7 separate regions of the Homo sapiens genome follow, and regions 1, 2, 3, 5, 6 and 7 are each linked to region 4. The links come from fine-mapping of genetic effects on gene expression. A gene starts in region 4. Each other region holds a variant in brackets. All regions are shown on one strand. Distances are from middle to middle.

The links.
Region 1: its variant is fine-mapped to the expression of CPNE2 in naive CD4 T cells (Schmiedel 2018, PIP 0.95).
Region 2: its variant is fine-mapped to the expression of CPNE2 in whole blood (INTERVAL, PIP above 0.99).
Region 3: its variant is fine-mapped to the expression of CPNE2 in whole blood (INTERVAL, PIP above 0.99).
Region 5: its variant is fine-mapped to the expression of CPNE2 in whole blood (INTERVAL, PIP above 0.99).
Region 6: its variant is fine-mapped to the expression of CPNE2 in nucleus accumbens (GTEx, PIP 0.98). The same link has a PIP of 0.9 or more in caudate.
Region 7: its variant is fine-mapped to the expression of CPNE2 in naive CD4 T cells (Schmiedel 2018, PIP 0.95).

The regions. Positions count from the first base shown.
Region 1 is chr16:57,930,880-57,934,879 of GRCh38, forward strand. It overlaps CNGB1 (cyclic nucleotide gated channel subunit beta 1), which reads right to left. Exons shown (of 33, transcript NM_001297.5): 17 at 837-999. Among named protein-coding and RNA genes, the nearest start is that of CNGB1, 38 kb to the right of the region's middle. The variant T/C (reference allele first, on the strand shown) is at 2,409.
Region 2 is chr16:57,130,116-57,134,115 of GRCh38, forward strand. The region is part of intron 12 of CPNE2 (copine 2); the gene reads left to right. Among named protein-coding and RNA genes, the nearest start is that of CPNE2, 40 kb to the left of the region's middle. The variant G/A (reference allele first, on the strand shown) is at 1,951.
Region 3 is chr16:57,237,087-57,241,204 of GRCh38, forward strand. RSPRY1 (ring finger and SPRY domain containing 1) reads left to right here. Exons shown (of 15, transcript NM_133368.3): 15 at 1,793-3,383. The coding sequence ends at 1,889. Among named protein-coding and RNA genes, the nearest start is that of ARL2BP, 6.1 kb to the right of the region's middle. The variant ACT/A (reference allele first, on the strand shown) is at 1,963.
Region 4 is chr16:57,090,287-57,094,286 of GRCh38, forward strand. It overlaps CPNE2 (copine 2), which reads left to right and starts at 2,297. Exons shown (of 16, transcript NM_152727.6): 1 at 2,297-2,504. RefSeq lists silencers at 1,819-1,888, 1,909-2,158, 2,269-2,318, 2,379-2,788.
Region 5 is chr16:57,023,410-57,027,542 of GRCh38, forward strand. It overlaps NLRC5 (NLR family CARD domain containing 5), which reads left to right. Exons shown (of 49, transcript NM_001384950.1): 5 at 376-444; 6 at 1,959-3,609. Among named protein-coding and RNA genes, the nearest start is that of NLRC5, 36 kb to the left of the region's middle. RefSeq lists an enhancer at 3,042-3,560. The variant C/T (reference allele first, on the strand shown) is at 1,653.
Region 6 is chr16:57,114,304-57,118,426 of GRCh38, forward strand. It overlaps CPNE2 (copine 2), which reads left to right. Exons shown (of 16, transcript NM_152727.6): 4 at 1,173-1,247; 5 at 3,193-3,264. Among named protein-coding and RNA genes, the nearest start is that of CPNE2, 24 kb to the left of the region's middle. The variant C/T (reference allele first, on the strand shown) is at 1,763.
Region 7 is chr16:57,950,616-57,954,615 of GRCh38, forward strand. The region is part of intron 12 of CNGB1 (cyclic nucleotide gated channel subunit beta 1); the gene reads right to left. Among named protein-coding and RNA genes, the nearest start is that of CNGB1, 19 kb to the right of the region's middle. The variant G/A (reference allele first, on the strand shown) is at 1,718.

The DNA.
Region 1 (4,000 bases), 840 kb after region 4:
AGGGAGTTGCTGTTCAATGAGTATAGAGCTTCAGTCATGCAAGACGAAAAATTCTAGAGATGTGCTGTAAATAATGTGCATATAGGTAACAATACTGTACTGTACACTTAAAATTTAAGAGTTTTTTTTTTAAAAAAGACTTGGTGAGTTATAATATGCAAGTTTTAATAAATAGCATCCTATCAAAAATGAAATAAAATAAAATGTGGAGGTAGAAATTAATTCTGTAACATTTATTATGTATTACTATATTATTTATTTATTTTAAATTTAAAAAGTTTTTTTTTTTTATTTTTTGAGACAGAGTCTTGCTCTGTTGCCCAGGCTGCAGTGCAATGGCACAATCTCAGTTCACTGCCACATCCCAGGCTCAAGCAATTGTCATGCCTCAGCCTCCCGAGTAGCTGGGATTACAGGAGTGAGCCACTATGCCTAGCTAATTTTTTTGTATTTTTAGGAAAGACGGGGTTTCGCTATGTTGGCCAGGCTGGTCTTAAACTCCTGGCCTCAAACGATCCACCCACCTCAGCCTCGCAAAGCGCTGGCATTACAGGCAGTAGCCACCGTGCCTCGCTATTACTATATTATTTATTATATTACTCCTTCTAACTTATAGCTGAGGGCATTTGGGACAGGGCCTCCCATGAGAGCTTTTATAAGAGACCTAATTCAGGAGTTAGGAAAACGAGGAAGGGGCATCATAGTCCCACTTCTGACACCAACTCGCTGTGTGATTTTAGTCCAGCTGCTTCTCCCTCTGGCCTCAGTCTCTTCATCTGCCAAATAAACAGGTGGCACAGTGCCGAGAAAAGCCCAAGAGAAGCATAAAAGGTAACCTGTGTGTCCCCGAGGCTGAGCTTGGGACTATAAGGGTGTCTGATTTGGCAGGAGACGGTGGCGGCAACACGGTTGAGGGTGGATTCTCTTCTGCCATGAGGGGGCAGCTATCAGCATCAGTATCTTCCACCTGCACTTCTGGGTGCTGTTTCGTGGCAGGCACTGGGGGAGAGGAAGGAGAGGAGAAAGTCAGAGAGAGACAAAAGCTGGGTCCCAGGAGTCCAGCTGTGTTCTTGAAGAAAACCAGAGAAAGCATGTTTGGAGGGGACTCTGATAGCTTCACTTCCCAATGGGGCACACAGAAAAGCTCCATGCAGGGGGTACAGGAACGTGGTGCCTGGGGTCCTCTGAGGGTCACAGCCACCAGCCCAGGAGCCACGAAAGAAGCCACAAAGCCACAGAAACCACGGGAGCTCCCCTACACAGCCTGGAGCCCAGCTCTCCTAGCTCTCAAAGCCCAGTTTGGTTTCCCTGCACTTGAGCAAGCTCCAAGAGCTGAGGCAGTGGCAGCCCCCAGAGAGGACACAGGAGAGCCAGAGTCCTGGCGCCTGGCCTAGCACAGCCTGAGTCAGCTGCTTCCCCTCTCTGAGCTTCAGTTTCCCCACCCCAAGTTAGGGTGACCATGCCTTCCCAGGCCTGTGGGGAGGAGCCAGAAGGCACAAGTACTCACATTCTTAAAGATTCTTTTTTTTTTTTTTTTTTTTGAGTCGGAGTCTCGCTCTGTCTCCCAGGCTGGAGTGCAGTGGTGCAATCTCAGTTCACCCCAAGCTCCTTCTCCTGGGTTCATGCCATTCTCCTGCCTCAGCCTCCCGAGTAGCTGGGACTACAGGCTCCCGCCACCACGCCCGGCTAGTTTTTGTTTTGTTTTGTTTTGTTTTTTTGAGACAGAGTCTTGCTCTGTCACCCAGGCTGGAGTGCAGTGGCACAGTCTCGGCTCATTGCAAGCTCCGCCTCCCAGGGTTCATGCCATTCTCCTGCCTCAGCCTCCCAATTAGCTGCGAATACAGGCACCTGCCACCACGCCCGGCTAATTTTTTGTATTTTTAGTAGAGACCGGGTTTCACCGTGTTAGCCAGGATGGTCTCGATCTCCTGACCTCGTGATCCACCTGCCTCGGCCTCCCAAAGTTGCTGGGATTACAGGTGTGAGCCACTGCACCCAGCCAAGTCCTCACATTCTTTTTAAAAATTATTTTATTTGTTTGCTTTTGAGAAGGGGGGGCGGGTCTCACTCTGTCACCCAGGCTGGAGTGCAGTGGCACGATTGCAGCTCACTGCAACCTCTGCCTCCTGCAACCTCTGCCTCCCAGACTCAAGTGATCTTCCCGGCAGCCTCCCGAGTAGCTGGGACCACAGACGCACACCACCATGCTCGGCTAATTTTTGTGTTTGTGTAGAGATGAGGTCTCACCATGTTGCCCAGGCTGGTCTCGAACTCCTGAGCTCAGGTGATCCACCTACCTTGGCCTCCCAAAGTGCTGGGATTACAGGCGTGAGCCACTGGGCCCGGCTGGCCTCACATTCTTGAAGAGCATCAAATGGAGACATTTGCAGGGTCCCTCCAATCAAGGG[T/C]AACAGACTGTGTAGTGTGTGCTACTTCCTATTTGGATAACTGCTTGGTTATGTCCTTGTTCTTGTACATGCCAGGGGCCCCCAAATTCATCAGCTAGCCTGACTCTGGACCTCTGAGAGGCCCTGTACTGTGTCCCACATTCTGAGAATCAGGTCCTCTCCAGGGAGCCTGGACGTGGCCCTACCTTGGGCTCCATCACCCACCTCAGGGACTGCAGGGACAGGTCTGCCCCAAGTCCAAGCTCAGAGGATACTGAGAGGCTGGGATAGTATTCCTCCTTCTCCCCTACACCTAGGGGGGTCTACCCAATAGCAGCTGGGCACAGGTGTGGGCACCAGCAAGGCAGGCAGGGATACACCCCCCAAAAGCGGGAAGCAGGGAGATTTTGAAATAATTATATATGTGCTTTTTGTTTCTTTTTCTTTCTTTTCTTTTCTTTTTTTTTTTTTTTTGAGATGGAGTCTCGCTCTGTCGCCTAGGCTGGAGTATAGTGGTGTGATCTCGGCTCACTGCAACCTCTGCCTCCCAGGTTCAAGCCATTCTCCTGCCTCAGACTCCTGAGTAGCTGGGATTACAGGCCCCTGCCACCACGCCTGGCTAATTTTTGTATTTTTAGTGGAGACGGGGTTTCACCATGTTGTCCAGGCTGGTCTTGAACTCCTGATCTCAGGTGATCTGCCGGCCTTGGCCTCCCAAAGTGCTGGGATTACAGGCATGAGCCACCGCACCCAGCCGATATGGGGTTTTTTTCAAATGGCCTTTATAAGAAAAGCCGGCACTCTGTTAAATTGCTTACACTTACTCTATAGTTTAATGGAGTGAACCCTAAATCCTCTGGAGAAGAGGATGAGCAGGAATGGAGAAGTTGTTAAAAATGTAAAGGGGGCCAGGCACAGTTGCTCATGCCTGTAATCCCAGCACTTTGGAAGGCTGAGGTGGAAGGATCCCTTAAGTTCAAGAGCAGCCTGAGCAACATAGCAAAACCCCACCTCTACAAAAAAATTCAAAAATCGGCTGGTCACAGTGTTCCAGCTACTTGGGAGGCTGAGGTTGGAGGATAGGTTGAACCTGGGAGGTAGAACCTGCAATGAGTCAAGATCGCGCCTACTACACTCCAGCCTTAGCGAAAGAGCGAGACCCTGTCTCACAAAATAATAAAAAATAAAATAAAATGGAAGTAATGTTCTTACTACAGCTTCTCATTACCTTGTCTGTAGCATCTAGAATCATCATGTACTCTAGCACAGCTAGATCAGCCCCCTGTGTCAATGTGTCCCCGGGAACATTTTCCCAAGTGTGGGGCTCCCAGAGACTGGGGAGGACACGAGATGATCTCAGATGGTACAGACAAGGCAAAGTATAACCTAGAATAAGAATGTTACTCCTGGTCGGGCGCAGCAGCTCACGCCTGTAATTCCAGCACTTTGGGAGGCTGAGGCAGGAGGATGACCTGAAGTTAGGAGTTTGAGGCCAGCCTGGCCAACATGGAGAAACTCCATCTCTACTAAAAATACAAAAATTCCCCAGGCCTGGTGGCATGTGCCTATAATCCCAGCTACTCAGGAGGCTGAGACAGGTGAATGGCGTGAAC
Region 2 (4,000 bases), 40 kb after region 4:
CACACTTATAATCTTAGCACTTTGGGAGGCTGAGGAGGGTGGATCACAAGGTGAGGAGTTCGAGACCAGCCTGGCCAACATGGTGAAACCCCGTCTCTACTAAAAATACAAAAATTAGCTAGGTGTGGTGGCGGGAGTCTGTAATCCCAGCTACTCGGGAGGCTGAGGCAGGAAGATCCCTGGAGCCCAGTGAGCTATGAGTGCACTGCACTCCAGCCTGGGTGACAGAGTGAGACTCTGTCTCTAAAAAATTAATTAATTAATTAATTAAAATAAAAAAAGAGACAGCTGCATGAGAGAGCCAGGCAGATGAAGCGGAGACTGAGCCCGGGGGCAGAGCAGGGAGGAAGTGAAGGAGGGAGGGGCAGAAAGCAAACCCATAAGTAGCAGCATTTATTGGGCCCTTAGAATGTTCTAGATACCACTCTGCCTGCTTTACCAGTTTCAACTAATTCTCACCAAAGCCAATGAGGTAGGCCCTGTTATGAACCCATTTTGATCGTTGAGGAAGCCAAGCAGTCAGGGCTCGGGGAGGAGGGAGTGGGGTTGGAGGCTGCCCCTGGGCCTGGTGAGGTAAGGCTGAGAAGAGACCATCCGTTTCACTGACCATGGCTGGGGCCATTATGGCAGAGACAAGATGGGGAGGGGAGAAGGGCATGGAGACATCAGCCAGTGTGGCAGTCAGCCAGCGTGGAAGTCAACTGGCTGTGAGGGAGGGGAAGGGTTAGGTCAAGCAGGTCTAAAGGCTGAGGAGGAGCCAGGAGAGGCGTGGAGGTGAATTGAAGCGGGGGTCCCTGAGGTGTGGTTGTGGGTAGTCCTGGGGCAGGAGGCGGGGGCTCCTCATAGAACCACGGGCACCAGGGGAGGGGTGGTTTGGTGGCTCAGAGATGGAGACGTCAATGAGGGCAGAAGCTGTGATGCTGGGGAGTCGCTGCAGATGGGCAGGGAATGCTGTCCCATTTTACAGGGCAATAAACTGAGGCTTGGAGCCTCAAAATGACTTGCCCAAGGCCATGTTCACCAACTGGGCAGTTGGACTCTAAAGTTTCTTCTCAGACACTGTTGCCTCCCCATGAGAAGCCTGTGGGGTGTGAGGCCAGAGAGCTCCTAAGCCTGCACATGGGTCTCGCTCGGCCAGTGCCCCTTCTTGTCTGCCCTGCTGTGCCGCATTGCTGTTTCCAGAGTGAATTTTTGCCTCCTGTCCTCTCTGGTCCTCTCTGGGGAGGATGATTTTCACCTAGAATTTCGGGGAGTGGCCCAAGGGCCAGGGCAGGAGATGTGGGTGTCCTGGCTCCCTGTGGTGTGAGGCTACGCCTCAGATGGGACCAAAGCTGGGCCACAGTGATGCCATTCGGGGGGCAGGGCGAGCTGGTGCGGCTGGGCCCAGCACGAGCCCGTTGCTAGGACACCAGCCAGCTTTCAAAGAACTGAATGAGATGTTTTCTTGAGCAAAAGCCTCCTTGTAAATGTCACAGGGCGATGCTGGGGAGGCCAGGGCTTGGCCAGGCTGGAGTGCCCGGCGGTGCCAAGAAAGATGCTGCGTCCAGGCTAGGAAAGGACAGATGCTGTGTCCCACCTCCCCCTGCCATGGGAGCCGCCAGGCCTGGCCCCTCCTGGCCCCTCACCCTCTCTCGCATTCTGACTCGCCTCACTCCTGCTGCCTGAAGCTCCTTCATTCACTCCCACCTCAGGGCCTTTGCACATGGCCTTCACTCAGCCCGCTGCTCCCTCTCCTGGGCTTCTGCCACCGATTTTCACCTAGAATTTCGGGGAGTGGCCTGCCCTCTGGGAGCCATGCTCACACTCACATGGGGGCCCTTCTTCCTGCCCAGAGCCCTGCCCTCATGGAACTCTGTGACTTGTTTGTGATTGCCTGGGGAAGGCACTGGGTTTCTTTCTGCCTGCATCCCAGCACCTGGCCTGCAGTGTGCAGTGCCATTGTTTGTTGAC[G/A]GAATGAATTTGGGACCCAGCCCAAATTTGGGACCCCAGGCCTGAGCAAACAGAGGGGTCGGTTCTCTGAGGGTGGGAAGCTAGAAGGAACCAGAAGGAGCACGTGACCAGGCTGCCTGCCTTTGAGACCTCAGTTTCTCCCTGAGGGTGGCCCAGATGATCCCAGAGAGAACTCCTGCCCCAGAGAGTGGCTGAGGGTCTCAGGACGCGTTTCCCTTTGGAGATGGCATGAGGTCTTGGCCCTTCAACGTGAGCAGAGTTACTCAGATGAGGAACGGGATCTGGGCAGAAGGCACAGTCTGTGCAAAGGTCTGGGAGGAGGGGGAGCATACTCTGCAGGTGGGGAAACTGAGGCTCAGAGAGGACAGTCACTCTGAGATCCCTTGGGCTTTCTCCATGCCCCACCCGCTGCCTCTACCACCTGCCTCAGCCAGGGCCACAGGGAACTGAGCCTGAAGTAACTCCCTGACCTCAAGGCTGAGCCAGGCCAGGTTGGGTGAACAGGGCCATTGGCTGTCAGAAGGCAATAGGGAGTCCCAGGACAAAGGCCTGTGGCTGGCAGCCAGTCCCCAGGGGCCCCTCATCAGCTTCTGTGGCCTCCAGGAACTTGTTCTGTTTATGACTTTTCTCAGGCAAACCAGGGCAACCAGTATGGGAGGGGCTGAGCTGCCACTCCTGGTAGCATGGACACTTGTCCCCAGGCCCCACTGTGTGACCTGGGCACTCCCTGGCCCTCTGGGAACCTCACTCTTTCCAGCTATGAAATGGAGTTGCTGGAGGAGACAACCTCTGGGGCCTCTGGGGCAGATGGACAACCTTCCACAGCCCCCCTGACCGCAAGGCTGGGCCCTCCCCAAATAAAGAGGGGGGAAGAGTGGGGATGAAGAGCGGGGGGCCCGAGAAGGCAAAATATTCCTCCACCCCTATCAGCAGGGGGCTTTCCCACTGTGGTCTCTAAAATCTCCTAAAATCTGATTTTTCAGGAAGACTTTGGCCCAAGGGAGTCCTGTTTCCCTGGCAACCATTTTCTCTCTCAGCCCCTCCATACAAGCCCCCCTCGTAATCTCTATAGAGGCTCAGGAAGTCTCCATGGCAACAGGGACCTCCAGCCCCCAAACCTGGAGCCCAGACTGGGGACAGGGTGAAGTGGGCCCTGGACAGGGACAGGACCCAAGAGGGACACCAGGGGACTGGCTCTGTGCCGGGCGCCTAAAGCAGACAGCAAAGAACAGAAAACCCCATTGCCTGAAACGGGGAGGAGTCCTCCCACCACCTCCCCTCCCCTGGGCTGCCAGGGAGGCCAGACTGAACCCCACTGCTGGGTCCCTGCCCTCTCCCCCAGGAGTAAGACCAACTCCCACCCCCAGGGGAGGGGAGGGCACTGGGTCTCAGGCCTGTTCGACTGTGTGGCTCTGGTGCCTGGCTTCCCTTTTCTGGGCCTCGGTTTGTTTATTTGTAAAATGGGGACGCTGGATGCAGGAGAGCCTCCCAGTACCCCCATCGTCATGTCTTGGAGCTGAAGAGTCTGTCTGGGATTGTCTGTGCCCAGACAAAAGCCCTCCTCCTGCAGCTGAGGACCGGGGCACCCCTCCACCCTCCTCATTGAAAATCCCTGGGGGAGGAATGCCTTTGGAGGTTAGCGTGAGCTCTGGGAGCAGCCTGACCTCAGTTCGAGTCCCAGCTCTGCCCGCCAGGAAATGTGGGAAAATTCTAGTCCACTCTGTGTCTCAGTTTTGTCATCCATAAGATGAGGTGATAACAGCTGCCCTTCCATTGGGGTGTTGTGAGGAAGGAGTAAGGGGATTCCTGCACAGCAGTGAATGCGGATGTGGTACATGGTAGGAAGGGGGCTGAGGGGGATTTGGGGCTGTGGGGCTGCAAGAGAGGGAAGAAAGGAGGGACTGTCCCCCATCTGAGCTCTGCAGCGTCTCCCGAGGCCTTGGGTTCTGCAGGCACTGCAGTCTCACCCACAGCCCTGAACGGGGCCAGTTATGAGTCCTTCTATACCCCGAAGCCATGCGAGCAGCAGCAGCCGGATGTGATGGGTGCA
Region 3 (4,118 bases), 150 kb after region 4:
AACCTGGGAGGTGGAGGTTGCAGTGAGCAGAGATCGTGCCACTGCACTCCAGCCCAGGCAAAGGCAGGTTTTTTTGAGATGGAGTCTTGCTCTGTCGTCCAGGCTGGAGTACAGTGGTGTGATCTCAGCTCACTGCAGCCTCTGCCTCCTGGGTTCATGCAATTCTCCTGCCTCAGCCTCCCGAGTAGCTTGGATTACAGGCGCATGCCACCAGGCCCAGCTAATTTTTGTATTTTTAGTAGAGACGGGGTTTCACCATGTTGGCCAGGCTGGCTCGAACTCCTGACCTAAAGTAATCCACCTGCCTTGGCCTCCGAAAAGTTCTGGGATTACAGGCATGAGTCACCATGCCCAGCCTACAATATAGAAATCTTTAATATAATTACTCAAATAGGCCAGAGGCAGGAGAGGGGCAGTTATCACTTCAAGAATGCTGAGAAAGCATTTGTTAAAATTCAATATCCATTCCTAATGGATGAAATACTACAAAACAGAAATGAATGGACTAAAACAATATAAAATAGGAATGGATGGATACTTCCATAACAATACAAAAAACACATATATTTCAGCCAAATGCTAGTATCTCTTTATTTTTTTATTTTTATTTATTTATTTATTTTTATTTATTTATTTATTTTTTGAGACGGAGTCTCGCTCTGTCACCCAGGCTTGAGTGCAGTGGCGTGATCTCAGCTCACTGCAACCTCCGCCTCCCGAGCTCAAGTGATTTCTCCTGCCTCAGCCTCCCAAGTAGCTGGGATTACCAGTGCCCGCCACCATGCCCAGCTAATTTTTGTATTTTTAGTAGAGACGGGGTTTCACCAGCTAGCATCTTTTTAATGGTGACACATAGGAAGCATTTCAAGAGATGTTGGGAATAAGATAAGGATGCCTACTGTCACCACTATGACTTACAAAATACACAAAAATCAGTAGCTCTTCTAGCTATATGTATAATAGCAGCCAGTTAGAACATATAATTGAAGATCCCTTTTACCATGGTTAAAAAAAAAAGTGCTATCTAAGAATACATAGCAAGAAATATGTAGAGCGTATATGAAGAAAACTTTTAAACTACCAAAGAGTATAACAGAAGACTTAAATAAATGAGTCTCTTCTTGGATAGGAGGACCTCTCAGTATTGTAAAGGTGACAGTTTTCTCTAAACTCTAAGTTTAATTTGCTCAACATAAAAAGAGCAACATGATTTTTTTCTGGAACTTGACATGCTGATTTAAAAGTTTAAGGCAAGAAAATTCTGAAAGTTAGGGAGATGACAACCATACCACATCTTAAAATACATTAAAATAAATGTTAATAGTTTGGTCCCATTACTATATGACAAGAATGGCAGAATAATGGAATACAATAAAAGCCCAGAAATAGAACTAACTAAAAATGAAAATTTACCATATGACAAAGGCATTGTGTCAAAACTGTGGTGAAAGATGGACTGTTTGGTAAATGATTCTGGGATAAATGGCTAGCTTTCTGGGGAGAAATATTATATCCCTACCTATAAGTGCACATCTGTAAGTATATGCTGTGCACATATAGAGTGTCTGAAAGAATGCATATGAACTTTTTACTTGTTCCACAGACTAAGACAATTGAGGATCAGAAATGTAAGATTTACTTTTTATTTACATATTCATTTTTTTTAAACCATGTATAATTAGTAACCCTTTCAATGAACAAACTTGTTAACATTTTTGATTTAGTTGGCAGGCAGTTGGAGTTTGACCTTTTGAAGCATTAACTTGACTGACTTTTCTGTGTTTCTCCCCAGTGACCTGTGCATGGATTGTGCCTTGCAGCTGGAGACCTGCCCATTGTGTCGTAAAGAAATAGTATCTAGAATCAGACAGATTTCTCATATTTCATGACACATGTGAAGAGGCATCGTGGACTTTTTTCTACTCAATTCCAGCCAATGTTGAAAAGAAAAAGAAAAAAAAA[ACT/A]CTCTAATCAGTTGTACACACATTGAAACTTATAGCCATGGCCAGATTTTATGCTAAAAATGGTAGTTTGTCAAAGACAAAATTCTCTTAGAATCTAATCCAACTTGCCAGCCCTGAGAAAATCCCTTTTAAGGCCAAGGAAAGCTGAATGCTAGCAGCCAGGCCTGTGGTACTTCCATGAGAAACCATAGCAGACAATGCCCTCCCAAGTACTGAAATCACACTGGAATCCCCCTTGTTGGGTTCATTTGATTGTTTAACACAGGATGTGTTGTGTCATTCTGAAGTTTTTATTTGGGGCAGAAGTCTTTATGGAGATGTAAATGACAGCGTTTCTGGGTTATGCATAACTTCTCACTGGTCAGAGACACCGGTGTGTCAAGCATGGATATTGCATTGCAAGACTTGAATCTATAAAAATTAGAATCACACAGTCAGTACTACAAGCAAAACAGAGAACCTGAAAGAAGGTGCACAGACTGTAAGAAAAAACCCAAGTTTGTGATATTTCAGTGATTCCAAAGAACATTCTAGGTTTTTTGTTTGTTTTTTTGTTTTTTGGGTTTTTTTTTTTTACTGCAGAAAATTGGTGGTATTTTCACATTCATAGTGTTTCTATCCAATTTCAGTACCCACATTTAATGAGGAAAAAATGTTTTACCAATGAAGGAGGAATTCTTAAATTAGCTGTAATGTTAGGTTGGAGAAAATTTGGTATTTAGGGTATTTTCAAGGTACCATCAAATCAGATTTCTGTTTTTTTGTTAAAAAAAATTTTTTTAATCAGTATTGTTTTTACAAGTAATATACTTTGAAACTCTTGAACTAATAGTCTCAAAAACTCTAGAGGACAGTCTGAGAACACGTATTTCTATTGTTCTAAATAAATACATGTTTTTGAATAGTTCAATCATGAATTATTGACTATGTCTTCATCAAAAGTGTTAATCCCTCTCAGGGTCTCTGGTGAAGACCTTCAAGAGTTTGGTTTTTTCTCCCAGGAAATTGGAAGGTAGAATTGTAAATTCATAGAACTTCTTTTATAATGGTGTACCTCAGCAGCTGCCTTTCAATTTATGCCAAGTCCTTACAGAGTTTATACTTGAATAGTAAATATGTCTTCTGAGTTTTACAGTGTCTTAAACTCAATGCACATTTTTTTTTCTTCTTTTTCCACCCCTTCTTGTTTGTAGTTCATTATACCTGTCCTATTACAGAACTGATTTCCTTCCTGGCTGTACATGTTGGGGTGCTGGATTTTTTTCCGTGTCTTTAGTCTTCCATAAATCCACACACACACACACACACAAAAAATATATATATATATAAATATATATGTAGGATACATGTTCTCTTCTTTAGCTTGTGGTGAATACAGTAATTTGCATTGAAGAATAAAACATCTGTTGCCTTTTTTGACTAAGATTTCACAACTTTCATTGGTGTATACTGCTAAGGTTCCAAGACATTATACTCTCAGACTTTAAGGGCTACTTTTGGGAGTAGGAGAGAATCAAGTATTAGAATTAAGAATAAGGCCACTTACTCATCCAGCAGATTGTTATTGAGCACCTAATATGTGCTGGGCACTGTGCCTATGTGGCATACAAAATATGCTTGTAGAGCTTATGTCTAATAAGCTTGTCTAATTATTGTCTATTATTATGTCTAACAGTAATTTGGAAGTGGTCCAGCTGAGACTAAAGGTAGTCTGTACATTTAGTAGAGAGAGGGAAAAATAGATGGAATTAATAGATAATTTGCGAGGCAAAGGAATGCAGGAGCCTAACAGCTTTCTAAAAATCTACCCTTGAAGTTTGTTCCTAAGGTGGGGAGAAGACAATATATTTGTGTTTATTGTAACAGATTTTTAGTGGAAAAGAATAGGGTCCTAGAGAGAATGAGGGGGACCTAATTTAGATGGTGGTGGGAGTGTCAGAAGAAACCTCACTGGGGAAGTAACATTAGTGAAACTTAAAGGAGGAAGTAGGACATAGCCTGGCAGAGACTGAGGACTAGCTTCTAGGACTGGGTAGCTAGGCGAACACAACATTTTAGGCAAAGGCACTAACTGAGGAAGAATGGGTCTCAGTGGGTTTGGGGATCCGATGGAAGGCCCCTGTAACTGGAAAAATAGGAAGCAAGTAGGTAGAA
Region 4 (4,000 bases):
GAACATTTTTTATCATCTCCCAAAGAAACCCTTTGCCAATAGCAATCACTCCCCATTCTCCACTCCCCGGCCGAGGCAACCACAAATCTGCTTTGTCTGTTTGTGGATTTGTCTATTCTGGACATTTCATCTAAATGGAGCCATGTAATATTTGTCTGAGACTGGCTTCTTTCACTGGGCATAATATTTTCCAAGTTTGTCCATACTGTAGCATGTATCAGTACTTCCCACCTTTCTTTTTTTCCTTTCTTTTTTTTTTTGGAGGGGGGATGGAATCTCCCTCTGTCACCCAGGCTGGAGTACAGTGGCGCAATCTTGGCTGCAACTTCCGCCTCTTGGGCTCAAGTGATTCTCCTTCCTGCCTTCCGAATTGCTGGGATTACAGGTTCTTGCCACTACGCCTGGCTAATTGTTATATTTTTAGTAGAGACAGAGTTTTGCCATGTTGGCCAAGCTGGTCTTGAATTCCCGACCTCAAGTAATCGCCCGCCTTGGCCTCCCAAAGTGCTGGGATTACAGGTGTGAGCCACCACAACTGGCCAGTAATTCGTACCTTTCTATGGCTGTATAATATTCTATGTTGTGTGGATATACCACATTTTGTTTTTCCATTCATCAGTGGATGAACATTTGCGTGGTTTCCACTTTTTGGCTATTATGAATAATGCTGCTACGTACATTTGTGTATGTTTTGTGTGGCCATATGTTTTCATTTCTCCCGGGTAGATATCTAGGAGTGGAATTGCTGTGACCCCTGGCCTTTGTACTCTGCCTCCTTGGCTAGGGATCTAGTATCTTCCTTGACAGGCCCAACTATCTCATCCTTCAGGTTTCTTAAAGGAAGCCTCGCTGACTCCCATGGCTGAGTTGGGTCTTCTGTGCCACCCTACCTCCAATCTTTGCACATTTCATATGGTGATATGATGGCCTGGGTCCTGATCTTGGCCCCCACAGGTGAGCAACTTGAGAGAGACTATCTGCTTTGGTTCACCACTGTCCATCCCAGTGCCTGGCTCTCCTGCTGCTGGAAAGACAAGAGACAGATTCTGAGGCCAGAGCAATCAGGAAAGTCTTCCTGGAGGAAGCGGGGCTGGAGTTGGGTTGATAGGTTGGTTTGCCCCAGAGCGGGGCAGAGGGCTTTGATTGGCTTCGGTGGAAGAAAGGTGAAGAGAGCTTGGAGAAAGGAAAGATGGATGGGTGACAGGCAGGCAGAGAACAAAGCTCAGAGCCCCGGGGGCTGTTTAGTCTCGGCCCCTGTAAGGCTGCAAAGTGCCAGTGACTCAGACGTGGAGGGAGGCTCACAGGCTGCAGCGCGCGAGGCTCCCACATTAACCCTCACCTGCCTGGAATCGAAAAGCCACAATGGAAGCACTCGGCATTAACCCTCAGCTGCCCAGTCCTTGAGCCCCAGGGCCAAGGGCTGTGGACATGGCCTTGAGATCCCCGGGAAAGCCCCGCCCCCCAGAATCTGGTTACGTGAGGCTCAGCCTTCTGATGCCCGGTGGTGAACTTGCCCAGAGAGCACCTAAATACCGCGGAGTGGCCAAAGGCTTGAGCGCCCAGCGACAGACAAGTGTCCTAAGAATTGGTGCCTCTTCTAGGGAAAAGGAGGCCTGGGCTCCAAGGCCTTAAAGACTCGCCTAATTTTCCGCACGGATGAGTAGACCCAGGCCCAGTTCGGATCCGTCTTTATCTTATCGTCTGTGTCAGAGAAATATGTCATATTTCCAATCTCTGGCGGCAAGAAAATGCCGAGCTCTTTTGCTATTGAAAAAAAAAAGGGAAGAAAACACTGCGGCCCTAATCCTGCCCAATACAACCCAGAACCCAGCCTTGGGTGTTGCCCCGAGGGCGCAGCGCCGCTCCCATCGGCGCTGGGGGTCCAAGCGGCCCTGGGGCCCCGCAGGCCCGGGCTGAGGCCACCCCTCTGTTCCCGCGTCGGTGGCCCTGAGCGCACGGCGCTCGGAACTCGGAGGTGCCAGAGGCTCGGGCAAAGCAGGCCTGGGGAGGGCGCGAAGCCGCGTTGTTCCGATCCTCAGCCACCTGAGTCCCAGCCTGGAACCTTCGGACCCTCGCGTTCGGCCCGAACGTTCGGGCCCCCTCGGTGCCAGGCGCCCCGAGTGCCGCGGCGCGCCGGGCGCGGGCTGGGAGCGGCGGACTGCGGGCGGGACAGCGCCCCCGCTCCTCCCGTGGGAGAGCGCGCGCCCCTCCAGGAAGCTCCCGCCTCGCCTCCCACTTCCCTCCCCACTCCCCTCCTCGGCCGGAGGGAGGAGCCCGAGCCGCCGCCGCCGCCGCCGCCCGCCCGCCCGGCCCGGGAGGAGGACCGGACCCCGAGCGGCTGGGAGCGCACGCGAGCGGGCCGTGGCCGCGCGGGCAGCGCCCTGAGCCTGTCCCGCGCCCGCGGGCCCGGCCGAGCAGGAGCAGCTCCCGGGGATGCCCGGGCGGCTCGGAGCGCGGGCAGCGGCAGCCGTGCGGTGAGGGCGGTGGCGCCCGCGGGACCTGCGGTGAGTGGGGCCCGGGCAGGCGGGGCAGCTTGGCGTGAGTGCCCAACTTCGGCCTTGGGGCTGGGCTCTTTGATCCAGCTGCGGGTCCGAAGGAACCCGGGTTCCGCCTCGGGGGGCTGCGGCGCTCTAGCCCCCGCCGCCAGCGCGAACCCGGACTCCGGCGCTTCGGTGACTCAGCTCCGACCCGGCCACGCGGGGGCGCCCCGCCGGCTCCCGGACTGCGGGGAAGGGCGGGCGGGGTCCCTGGGGAGGGGGGCGCCCTCGGGGGTCCGAGCCCAGCTGCTTTGGGGACCCTTCCACCCGCCCCGAGGGGCTTGGAGGGCGTACGGGAGGTGGAGACCCGCCGCTGCCGCAGCTGCTGAAGGCGTGAGGTCGCCCTGGCTCTCGGCGGGCGCTGGCTCCTCTCCGCTCCCCTCTGCCCTCCTCCCACCCCTCAACACCCACCCCCTGCCCCAGGCAACTGCCGGAGGGCCGGCTCCCAGCCCCGGTACTGGGAGCGCAGAGGGGGAGTGGAGCTGGGCAGCTTCCCAGAAGTCGGAGTGTGTTTGCAAACTAGTTTTTGCGAAAAAGCTGTCTGGCACCTGTGTGTTTAAAGGGGGTGTGGGGGTGGGCATGGAGAGAGCGGGCGAACAAGGCCCTCTCTTATTCCCCGTTTCTCACAGCGATGCTCCTCTGAAAATAGAGGGGTCTTACACCCTCTTCCCTGCTCTTCCCACCCCATCCCCCAGCCTCGCTCCACGTCCCCCCGAGTTCAAGAAGCTCTCCTATGGGGAAGGGGCTGCTTCAAAGGGGGCTGTGATTTGCCCAAGGTCACAGATGCTGCTGGCTCTGGTAGCTAATAGGGTGTTCATCTTGCATCTGAATCCCCTGCCCCATATGTACTGGGGGAAGGGACAAGGGGTCTGGAAGAATGATCTTCCAGACAAAACGCCCTTTTTTTTGTCTGCCTTAGTTTTTTGCTCCCTTAGAGGTGTGTGCTGTCATCAAAGGTTGGGGGGCTTTTTCTGCCCCTTGGGCATCCACAGCTTCACGGACTGCAGGGAGCCCATGGTTTTCAGGAAACAGGCGGTGTGCGCAGATTGTAATCCCTGGCAGCTGCAGCCTGCCCTGATGGGGAGGCCTGGGAGACCTGGGTCTGAACCCCACCTATGACCAACAGGGAACTTGGCCCAGACCCTCCCCCCCTGTGGCCCTCTGGGTCACCATCTGTGAAATGGGCTGATGTTCCGGGGCCTGCCTCCTGGAGAATGGACACAGCATGAAGGCGTGGTTTTATGGCATTCCGCCTGGCATAGGTCCAGGTGAGCTCCAGGACCGCCCCAGCCAGCTGGATTGGAAGGGGTCACCCAGGCAGGTTTCTCCATGGAAAGAACCAGGGACGAAGGATGTGGACGCTTGGGTTCGTTTTGCGGCCGTCACTTCCTGTCTGCGTGCCTTGTCACCCCTTGGACTTGGGGGGTTTTCTGTCTGTAAAATGAGGCAAACTGTGACATGAT
Region 5 (4,133 bases), 67 kb before region 4:
GAACTTCACTTATATGACCACCGGCGGCTTCCATAGAGCTTGGTCCTTCCCTGATGGACAGATGGCCATTTAGTGCTTGGAGCTGAGTGTTTCTGGGGGCTGCTGGCTGTTGGCCCTGCTTCCTGCATCCTGGACTGCAAGACTGCCAGGCCCAGAACATCCACCTTCCAATGGGGGTGCCTAGAAGTCCACTCTGCAAATAGAAGCTGGTGTTGACCCAGCCTCTGCCTGCTGCCTGCCTTTCCAGTCCCTGCATGTGGGTGTACTTGGCTGCCTGCCACCTGTCTGTGGACTGGAGTTCCCCAAAGGTTCTGGGTAACCCCTCAGCCCAGATCCCCAGACCCCACTCCTCCACCCCTTCCTTTGCTTTTTCAGGCCTGAAGCGCCCACATCAGAGCTGTGGGTCCTCACCCCGCCGGAAGCAGTGCAAGAAGCAGCAGCTAGGTGGGTACCAGTGTGGGGAGGAACATAAACAGAGAGATGGGGTTGCCTGGGGGCCAAGACCCGGACCCTGGACCTTGTCCCCTGCCAATAAGCCTCCAGAGGCCCAGTGACTCTTGTCTCGCAAGTTTCCAGGAGAAAAGGACTGGAGGTCTTGCACAGGCAGAGGAGAGGCCTGGGCTGGCAGCGAAGGGGCTCCCCACCCATCTGGCTGCATGGGGACTTCTCTGAAGAGGGCTCCGCTGAAGGAGCTGGAAGCACCATACAGGTCTCAGCTTCGCTGTCCAGGCTTTTCCAGGGACACCCTATGTCCTCAGTGTTGAAGGAGACCCAGGGAGGAGACCAGTTTGGGGGTGAGCAGGGATGGGGAGGGGTGAGGAGGCCTGGGAGAAACCTTCAAGACAGAGGCCCTGGGGGCCCATGGGGAGACATGGAGCTGCTTAGGGCAGGCCAGGCCAGTGAGAGAAGAAAGGGGACTTCTCTCATTCTTGACCAGTTCTCAGAATGGTCCTCGTTCTCCACGAGTTGTCCCACTAACTAGAGCCTTCTCTGCCCCCACTGCTGCCAACCATGGCTATAACCAGAGGATTCACATCCGCTCAAAATAGTTCACTACCTTGGCCTTTCCCCATAGGGTTCCCCCAAAAGCAGCCCCAGCCCTTTCCCTGGGTCACCTGAGACCTCTCAATGACCCAGGAATTAAAAGGTTAACATCTGGCACTGTAGGGGCCCAGCTCCCACAGTTCCGATCGGTAATGCCTAGGCCTACAGGTTGTTAGTGCTCACCCCTGGGCATTGCAGAACTGAAATATTGGGAAGAGGCACTGGGGATCCAGATATTACAGAAAGAGGTTGTTTCAATAAGATATTGCAAAGTAGCTGGGCGCGGTGGCTCACACCTGTAATCCCAGCACTTTGGAGGGCTGAGGCAGGTGGATCAGTTGAGCCCAGGAATTCAATACTAGCCTGGCCAACGTGACAAAACCTTGTCTCTACTAAAAATACAAAAATTAGCTGGGTGTGGTGGTGTGCACCTGTAGTCCCAGCTACTCAGGAGGCTGAGGCAGGAGGATCACTTGAGACCAGGAGTTTGCGGCTACAGTAAGCTAGGATCGTGCCACTGCACTGGAGCCTGGGCAAGACTGAGACTCTGTCTCTGGGAAAAAAGAAAAAAAAGAGATGTTGCAAAGGAGGTGCCCTATTCCCCTCCC[C/T]CCATCTTACTGAACCCTTACACCACGTGTACTATTGCAGAATGGATAGAACCGTGACCCACACTTCCCCATTCCCACCTGCCTGTTTAAATAGCTACCGGAGAGCCTATGCTCCCTTAGAACTGATTCCTTCTGGAAGTTGGGGTGGCACAGATCCCCCTATGGTGCTCTTGACACCCCCACCCTCACCCCATCATACATACACATCTGGGGCTACAGGCTCCCAACAGCCCAATACTGGGGCAAGAAGACATGAGCAGAGGGCCGGGGGGTCCTCTCCTCATGCCATGTCCCTGCCCCTTGCAGAGTTGGCCAAGAAGTACCTGCAGCTCCTGCGGACCTCTGCCCAGCAGCGCTACAGGAGCCAAATCCCTGGGTCAGGGCAGCCCCACGCCTTCCACCAGGTCTATGTCCCTCCAATCCTGCGCCGGGCCACAGCATCCTTAGACACTCCGGAGGGGGCCATTATGGGGGACGTCAAGGTGGAAGATGGTGCTGACGTGAGCATCTCGGACCTCTTCAACACCAGGGTTAACAAGGGCCCGAGGGTGACCGTGCTTTTGGGGAAGGCTGGCATGGGCAAGACCACGCTGGCCCACCGGCTCTGCCAGAAGTGGGCAGAGGGCCATCTGAACTGTTTCCAGGCCCTGTTCCTTTTTGAATTCCGCCAGCTCAACTTGATCACGAGGTTCCTGACACCGTCCGAGCTCCTTTTTGATCTGTACCTGAGCCCTGAATCGGACCACGACACTGTCTTCCAGTACCTGGAGAAGAACGCTGACCAAGTCCTGCTGATCTTTGATGGGCTAGATGAGGCCCTCCAGCCTATGGGTCCTGATGGCCCAGGCCCAGTCCTCACCCTTTTCTCCCATCTCTGCAATGGGACCCTCCTGCCTGGCTGCCGGGTGATGGCTACCTCCCGTCCAGGGAAGCTGCCTGCCTGCCTGCCTGCAGAGGCAGCCATGGTCCACATGTTGGGCTTTGATGGGCCACGGGTGGAAGAATATGTGAATCACTTCTTCAGCGCCCAGCCATCGCGGGAGGGGGCCCTGGTGGAGTTACAGACAAATGGACGTCTCCGAAGCCTGTGTGCGGTGCCCGCACTGTGCCAAGTCGCCTGTCTCTGCCTCCACCATCTGCTTCCTGACCACGCCCCAGGCCAGTCTGTGGCCCTCCTGCCCAACATGACTCAGCTCTATATGCAGATGGTGCTCGCCCTCAGCCCCCCTGGGCACTTGCCCACCTCGTCCCTACTGGACCTGGGGGAGGTGGCCCTGAGGGGCCTGGAGACAGGGAAGGTTATCTTCTATGCAAAAGATATTGCTCCACCCTTGATAGCTTTTGGGGCCACTCACAGCCTGCTGACTTCCTTCTGCGTCTGCACAGGCCCTGGGCACCAGCAGACAGGCTATGCTTTCACCCACCTCAGCCTGCAGGAGTTTCTTGCTGCCCTGCACCTGATGGCCAGCCCCAAGGTGAACAAAGACACACTTACCCAGTATGTTACCCTCCATTCCCGCTGGGTACAGCGGACCAAAGCTAGACTGGGCCTCTCAGACCACCTCCCCACCTTCCTGGCGGGCCTGGCATCCTGCACCTGCCGCCCCTTCCTTAGCCACCTGGCGCAGGGCAATGAGGACTGTGTGGGTGCCAAGCAGGCTGCTGTAGTGCAGGTGTTGAAGAAGTTGGCCACCCGCAAGCTCACAGGGCCAAAGGTTGTAGAGCTGTGTCACTGTGTGGATGAGACACAGGAGCCTGAGCTGGCCAGTCTCACCGCACAAAGCCTCCCCTATCAACTGCCCTTCCACAATTTCCCACTGACCTGCACCGACCTGGCCACCCTGACCAACATCCTAGAGCACAGGGAGGCCCCCATCCACCTGGATTTTGATGGCTGTCCCCTGGAGCCCCACTGCCCTGAGGCTCTGGTAGGCTGTGGGCAGATAGAGAATCTCAGGTGAGTAAGAGTGGAGGAGGACCGGGGAGGGGATTGGGCTTTTGGGGGAGCAGAGGCCAACCAGTCTAGCAAACCTCTGCCAAGAGGACTGGATAAGAATCTTGAATATCAGAACATAATGGCCTGCAATGCAAGAGAGGAAGCTCCATACCTTGACAGGACCTCTGGAGTCCAAATGGATCCTCCTCTTGTCTGTGGTTTCTGGACTCTCAGTCTCTCTGTCAATCATGGGCTGAAACCACAGATCCAGGCTGTCTATAGAGGCTGGTGGACTTTGGGCAAGTATATGGAGCACACACATGCACACTGTCTAGGCCAGAGTTTCTTCGTTCCTAAAACGAATCTGTAACAATAGCCAACTCATATGGTCATTGCAAGAATGAGATGGGATGGTGCATGAAAAACATTTTGTAGCACAGTGCCTAGCACAGAGCAAAGGCTCAGTGTGCATATTAGCTAGAGAAAAGGCTAGGCTGCAGTAACAGAGAAACCTCCTCCCCAAATACAGTAGGTTAAATAATGTA
Region 6 (4,123 bases), 24 kb after region 4:
CACCTTCACCTGGAAGGAAGGCAGGGTGAGGAAGTGGCATTGCCAGGGCCTGGTAAGACCTGTGGCCCATAGAGGGAGGCCTCTGGACTGCAACTGAGGCAGAAGACAGAGTAATGGAGAAGCTCCCATCAAACGGGGGCCCCCACCTCTCACGCCACCTGCTCTCCCGTCTCCTGCCCATCCCCCCAACTGGCTGAACCTCTGAAAGCCAGAGGGCAAAAGAGCCAGGTGGCACAGTCCCCAGGGCACAGAGCAGGTGTGTGGATCTGCGGAGAAGAACTAGCCCCACAGGAGCAGGACTAGATCATACTGATGTGTGCTCCCCGCTGCACAGGACGACGCTCGCACTGCACCCAGGAAGCACGAACCATGCTGGCCCCTGAGTGCAGTGGGCAGACACAGGTGGGAGGGTGACTTTGCAATGTGGCCCACTTTTCCTCTCTATGTTGTTTTGATTATTGCACCCTGTGTAAGTGTATTACCTATTGAAACCAATAAAAATAGAAAGAATTGGCCGGGCTCTATAGCTCATGCCTGTAATCCCAGCACTTTGGGAGGCCAAGGCGGGAAGATCGCTTGAGCCTGGAGTTCGAGACCAGCCTGAGCAACATAATGAGCCCTTGTCTCTACCAAAAAAAAAAAAAAAAAAAAAAAAAAGCCAGGCGTGGTGATGCATGCCTGTAGTCCCAGCTACCCAGGAGGCTGAGGTGGGAGGATCGCTTGAGCCCAGGAGGTTGAGGCTGCAGTGAGCCGTGATCGAGACCTGTCTCAAAAGGAAAATACATAGAATCTGAGCTTGACTCTGTCCATCAGAGATCATATCCTGAGGCAGGTGGGGTCTGTGGAATGCCTCTGGAGGAGGGAGTTAGGGGGCTAACCTCCCACAGTTGTCTCCAAAATGCCTTTTCCTAGGGGCAAACCAGGCAGTGGGAGTCCAACTGCAGCGGGAGACCTCAGGCGGGTCTCTTACCCTCTCTGGGCCTCAGGCTCCTCACTGCCCAGATTGGCTGCTGTCCACCTCCCAGGGTGATGATGATGCTCAGGCGGGTCACCAGCCAGCCAGGGCGGGGTGCAGCCCTGCCAAGAGGATTTTTCCGGTGCCGGTGGAGGATTTTTCCTTCCCGGGCTTCCCCCGCTTCCTCACTGAGCGCCCTTTCTCCTCTCTCCCCTAGATCGTCTCCAGCAAGAAGATCACTAGGCCTCTGCTGCTGCTGAATGACAAGCCTGCGGGGAAGGGCTTGATTACGGTACCAGTCCCCTCCCGGCTCTCCGCACCCCCTCCATCCCCACCCCACACCCTCCCCCATCAATGGGCCGCTTCCCTGGCAGATAATCACCAGCTTTGTTTGGAGTAAAAAGGCCCAACTTACAACTTAGCAACAGGTCTCTTAGCAACCGGCTGCTGGCTCCACAAATGATGCAGTGGGGGCTGACAAGCTGGGGAGGCCTCCAGAGCCCTGCCAGCAGCCCCCTCCCTGCACTGGCCCCTGCCTGCCCTCCCCTGGGGGTCGTTCAGAAGTGCCCTGCCCATCAGTGCCCTGCTTGTGGCTGCGACGCGCAATGATTCCTGCAATGCGCAACGACTCCCGCGATGCGCAGTAATTCCGCTGGAGATGCACAGGCCCTTCGCCCGGATGAGCTCCTTGGTCTTCAAAGACTCCCAGAAGCCAGGGCCACCCCTGAGACCCAGAGAGGAAGTTCCCTGGGGCAGCTGAGCTAGCGAGATCGTCCCCTGGTTGTCTGGCTGGCTTCTGAGCCCACG[C/T]GATGCCTGGGAAGCCGGCCAGGCTGGAGGGAGAAGCCATGCCTTTGTGTGTTCCCGTGTGTTACTCCCCTGTCCTGGAACCTCACATGGCTCCCCACTGCCTGACCAACCCTTCGGTTCAAGGCTGTGAAGGACCCCTCAGACCCTGCCTGGCTCTCCTGCCTTGGTGTTTTTTTAATCTCCTTCACTTAAATGCCCTGCGTTCAAAGCAAACTGAATTCTTAGCATATCCTGAACATACCTCAGGCTCTTACTCTGTTCCTGCCCCCACGGATCACCACCTCCCAAACAACCTCCCCCAACCTCTTGGTTCCTAACTGGCCCATCTAAATGCCTTCCCAGGCCAGGTGCATGGCTTGCACCTGTAGCACTACTCCTTGGAAGGCTAAGGCAGGAGGATCCCTTAAGGCCAGGAGTTTGAGGCTGCAGTGGGTTATGATCATGCTACTGCCCTCCAGCCTGGGCAAGAGAGTGAAACCCCATCTCTGAATGAATGAATGAATGAATGCCTTCACAAGGCAGCTTCCACCTAGAAGCCATCTCAGACAGACCCCACTCACCCGGGTATGCCATCACCCCAGCATTTCTGGCAGTTCCACTCTAGGCCTCCATCCCGTCCCCTGGGAAATGGGGGTGATAATAGGACCTACCCTATAGGGTTGTTGAGCAAGTCCCAGTGGGAGGACGGCAGGGGAGAACGGGCAACATGGCTGGCCTCTGTCTGTGGGTCCAGAGGGCCAGATGCCTTGCGCTGGGTGAGGCCATCCTAGAGGCAGGAGAGGAGAGGAGGCCCCAGCGAAAGGCCCCAGCCCACTTGTGTTGCTGTGGGCAGCAGGGGAGGGAGAGAGGCCTACAGGGGGCCTCAGCAGTCTCGAAGTCGCCCAGCTAGGCCATCACTGGCTGGGCTGGGGTCAGGGAACCATAGCTGATGGGGAATGCATGGAGGACAGATGACCAATGTGAACTGATGGGACTCAGTTTCTCCCCTGGGCCTCAGTTTCCCTAGCTGTACAATGAAGTGGCTGTGATGCTGACACCTTGGTGTTCTGAGGAAGCTGTGCTCTCTGTGGCTGCCGCAGGGGCAGGAGAAGGCCGGTCATGCTGCTCTCTGGGCCAGAACCTCTCCCCGGGACTCAAGACCACCCCCGGTGTCTGGTCCTTGCTTCATCTCTGCCCACCACCCCATGGGCCCTGCGGATTTGCGTAGATCCGCTTCCTGACTCCTCATCTCCAGATGGGTTATTTTCCGCATTTTCCAGAAGATGGAAACTGAGGTGTGGGGAAGACAAGAGATTTGTCCAAGGTCACCTGGAACTGCCCTTCCCTTCCCCCTCCTAGCCCTGGAGGATTGCTCCTGGGGCACCCTGTGCCATCCTGCCTGGCAGGAGGCTGGGGGAGTCTGAGGAGCCCCTCATGTCCCGGCCTTACAGATCGCTGCCCAGGAGCTGTCCGACAACCGCGTCATCACACTAAGCCTGGCGGGCAGGAGGCTGGACAAGAAGGTAAGGCGGGCAGAGGAAGGGCTCCCATTGGGAACAGTAGCCCCCACCAGCCCCAGGGCTGTGTGGCCTCATTCCGGGACCTCGGGCCACCACCTCCATCACATTCTAGGGACTGGTCCAGCACGGGGCCCTCCTGGCCACTCCAGATTAGGACTCCTTCACCTCTGAGGTAGTGAGTGTTCCATCCCTTAGGGGTATTCAAAACACACCTGGAAACCTGCTCATTGGGGCATCCCCATCTCACTTAGTGTAAGTACATTCCAAGGTCCTTACCCAATGGGGCCCTGCCTGATGTGTCCCCAGTGCCCCGACTCTCCGACCTCACCCCTCCTCCCCGCACCTCACTCTGCTTCAGCCAAACCTAGCCCCTTGTCCGTGAATTAAACGAGGCACTCTCCTCCCTCAGGAGCTTTGCACTTGCTGTTCCCTCTGCCTGGGATGCTCTCTTCCTTGAATTTTCTCACGGCACCCTCTCACCTCCATCAAGCCTTTGCTCCCACATCACCTCCTCAACGAGGCCTTCCCTGAAATTGGTCTTCAATTTCCCACCCCCTCCTTCTCGTCTCCTTAACACTATTACTGTCTAGCATACTTTCTTTCTTTTTTTTTTTTTTTTGAGACAGAGTCCTGCTCTGTTGCCCAGGCTGGAGTACAGTGGTGTCATCTCAGCTCACTGCAAGCTCCGCCTCCTGAGTTCATGCCATTCTCCTGCCTCAGCCTCCCGAGTAGCTGGGACTACAGGCGCCTGCCACCACGCCCAGCTAATTTTTTTTTTTTTTGTACTTTTAGTAGAGACGGGGTTTCACTATGATAGCCAGGATGGTCTCGATCTCCTGACCTTGTGATCCGCCTACCTCGG
Region 7 (4,000 bases), 860 kb after region 4:
TGCAGGGAGCCCTGGCTGTCGCCAGCAGTGCCTCAGTGCTTAGTCATGCAGTGGGGAAATGGCACTTTCCATTTTCAGCGGGACCAGATCGGTGTTCCGGTGATAGGTTGAAGCCTGTGCTCATTCACTCTGTCTCCATTATTTTCCCCCCTTCTCCTCTTGAGACAGAGCTTTGATTATGGTTGATCCTGTTTGTTTCTCACGGGGGATTCCTTCTTAAAGGTTTGTGCAGAGGCAGAAACAATGCTTCCAATCACAGCATCACAGGGATGCCAAAAGGCCCAGGTTCAGGGTCCACCTGGCCACATCCAGGTGCAGGTGGACTGGATTGTCCTGGGGGATGCAGAGAGAGCTTGCCCGCTTCCTGCTCTGTAGATGCCACCCCCGGGTGACAGCACGCCCATACGTTCGGCATTTGCTTCTGAGAGTCCTTCCCTCCCTCCTGGGTCTAGAGGCTCCGCCCTCCAGGGAAACTCATCTTTCTCATGGGGGTGGTCCCAATTTCAGATGGGAGTCTAATTTTCAACACTTCTTCAAGTATCCTGGTCCTTGACAACAAAAACACCCTGGGCCTATAAGCCTGGCAGATGCTCAAAGGGAGTGCAGAGCAGTCTCATCAGGAACCTAAGCCTACCCCCAGGCAGGTGTCAGGGACAAAGGACAATGCCTGAATACTAGGTGTCCCCCGAAAGCTCCAGGGATCTTGGTGGACCTCAGCCAAACATGAATTAGTAATAGTGACTTTTTTGTTGTTGAGACAGGGTCTTGCTCTATTGCTCAGGCTGGAGCGCATTAGTGCAATTATGGCTCACCTCAGCCTCGACCTCCTGGGCTTAAGCAATCCTCCCACCTCACTCAGCCTTCTGAGTAACTGGGACTACAGGCATGCACCACCATACCTGGGTAGTAGTAACAATGACTTTAAATGGAAGCCGGCCTCAAGTCTTATCCTGAGACTTTGGCTGTTATTGTTCATGATGTTGCATAACAACAATAATAGTAACAGCAGCTGCATTTTTGAGCACTTACTATGTTCCAGGCCCTGTGCTGAATGGCTTACGTGGAATAACTCGATTAGTCCTCACATCAACATTTTGGGGTTATAATTTGCATCCCCATTTTATTTTCCCTCTTTTATGTTTTTCTCCCCATTTTACAGATGAGCAAACTGAGACACAGATAAATACCTTCTTTTATGGGGTGCTTCCATTGCCAGGCACAGAGCTCCCCACTTCTAGGTACAGATATTATCCCTGTTTCACAGATGAGGTGCTGCCTGCCCTCTAGGGAAGCCCCAAGAGCATCCTGAACTAGCTGTTTCCATGGTTGCTCCCGGCTCCTCTGGCCCTGCAAACGCCCCTGGGGTTTGGCCAGGGAGGCTCCTCCAAGTGTGACCCTGAATCCGGTGGTGGGACGCTTTGTCTGTGTCAGTCTATGCTGCTGTCCAGCAATAGTGCCATGTCTCCACTCTAAGCAGCCCCTTGGGATGCCAGTTCCTGCCTGGGCATAGCAGGGGACATCCAGGGAACAGAACATCTTGCCTGACAGCACGTGAGCTTTCACAGCAGCCCCAAAGGGCAGGAACAGTACTTTCCCCCTTTTAAAGAGAGCCAGCTCAGAGAGGCTGAGTGTCTTGTCCCAGGCCACACAGGAAGGTGGAGGCAGAGCCAGGTCCCCTGACTCCCGTTTTCCCAGTGCACTATCCCAGGTGATAAAT[G/A]TGCCCCACGAGCGCCTCACTGGCATCAGTGGCCACTCCTTATGGGGTGCCGTCCTTAAGAATTGATGCTGTCCTTGCTTCCACACTTCCTTTCCTTTCCTTTCCATTAACATTTTCTTTTTAGGTCCTATTTAGTGCGTGGGTGTTTTACAAGCATTTCCTTTTTTTTTTTTTTTTTTTTTTTTTTTGAGACAGAGTCTCACTGTGACACCCAGGCTTGAGTGCAATGGTATGATCTTGGCTCACTGCAACCTCCGCCTCCCATTCAAGCAATTCTCGTGCCTCAGCTTCCCGAGTAGCTGGGATTACAGGCATGCACCACCACACCGGGTTAATGTTTGTATTTTTAGTAGAGATGGGGTTTCACCGTATTGGCCAGGCTGGTCTCGAACTCCTGACCTCAGGCAATCCACCCACCTTGACCTCCCAAAGTGCTGGGATGACAGGCATGAGCCACCATGCCCGGCCTCATTTCCTCTTTCCATCTCCGCAGCAGGCCTGCAAGATGTGTCCTATACTGTTCCCATTTTACAGCTAAAGATTCTGCAGCACTGAGAGGAGGACGGTGCCCAAGATCACCAACCTGGAAGGGGAGGGATTGGGTATGCTGCCACACAGCCCCCAGGGCAGGCCCCCAGGAGGCGTGGTGCAGGAGCCCCTGGCCCACCCCTGGAGCTCCAACTGCCCCTCTCTACAGGCAGCTGATTCATAGCTCGCCCAGCTTCTCCGTGGCCCTACCCAGGTGCTCAGGAGCTATGAGTGCCCTAGTTCCCATAGAAACTGCCACTCCACCCTGGCACACCACCTCCTGGTCAGTGGCCTCTCTGCCCTCAGGGCCATCAAATGAGGTTCTGACCCTGGCCAGTGAAAGTCAACAGCCTCGGTCGGACACAGTAGCTCACACCTGTAATCCCGGCACTTTGGGAGGCCGAGGTCGGCAGATCATGAGGTCAAGAGATCGAGACCATCCTGGCCAACATGGTGAAACCCATTCTCTACTAAAAATACAAAAATTAGCTGGGCGTGGTGGTGCACACTTGTAGTCCTAGCTACTAGGGAGGCTGAGGCAGGAGAATTGCTTGAACCCGGGAGGTAGAGGTTGCAGTGAGCCGAGATCACACCACTGCACTCCAGCCTGGTGACAGAGCAAGGCTCAATCTTAAAAAAAAAAAAAAAAAAAGAAAGTCAACAGCCTCATGTAGGAAGGAGCCCCTGCTTCCAGGATCAGCAGGCAGGAGCCAGGGCACATGAATTCTAGGCTAAGGTCCCCACCTGGACCCCTGGGTCTCTGTCAAAGCCTGAGCCCTAACTCCAAACCTCCATCCTTTCTGGCAGGCCTGGGTCATGATACCTCCTTCCTCTGCCTCTCCCTGGCTCAGGCTCACATCTCCTCCTACCTGGCCCCAAAGCACTAACCTCTCACTGGATGTTTCTCAAAGTATGGTCCCAGCCTCTACCCCGTCATCAGAATCATCTGAGAAAGCAGGTGCTTCTCAATAAAGCAGATTCTTCCATAACCATTGCTTGGTCATCAAAGAAAAAAGAAAGAAAGAAAGAAAAAAAAAACAACACAGAACCAAATTCCCAGCTCCCGGTACTCTTGAATCAGAAAGTCTGGGGTAGGACATTTTTCATAGTTGGCCCCAGGTGCTTTGGAAGTGTCCCTGCTTTGATTGCTTTCCCTGTCTCCAATGCTTGCTCAGCCTCAGAGTAATCTTTCTGAAGTCACTCCCCTGCTCAATCACCTTCAATGGCTCCCCATTGCCTACAGCTTAGTTTCCTAAAGTCAGGCCCCAACTTCTCTAGTTTTATCTTCTGCATTAAGGATGCTGGGCTCCAGATTAGCTGAAGTCCCACCACTCTCCTGTATGCCACACTTTATTCCCTCTACTGGGATTGCCCCACCTCATCACCAGTTTGAGACCTCAGGGATCTCAAATCCAAAGGCCTGCCCAGCCAGGGTGATGATGTAAACAAATGAAGAGGCAGGTGCCACCTGCCTTCAGGTGCCAGCAGCTGCCCAGACTGTCCTCACAAGCACAGTGTGGGCCCATGACAGCCAAGTCCACCCAGTTTTCAAGAGAAGCCAGATTTTTCCATGTAAAGCTACCTGATTTTTAAATGTTGGCAATCAATTCTAATTTTTAAAATCACTCCATGGCCCAAACAAAGACACATGTGGGCCAGCTGGGAGCCAGGACCCCCAGCTCAGGACCCCTGGCTAATTCCTCTCCTCCTGCAACCCAACACCGCAAGCCCAGGGCTATTCAGTCCACCCACTTT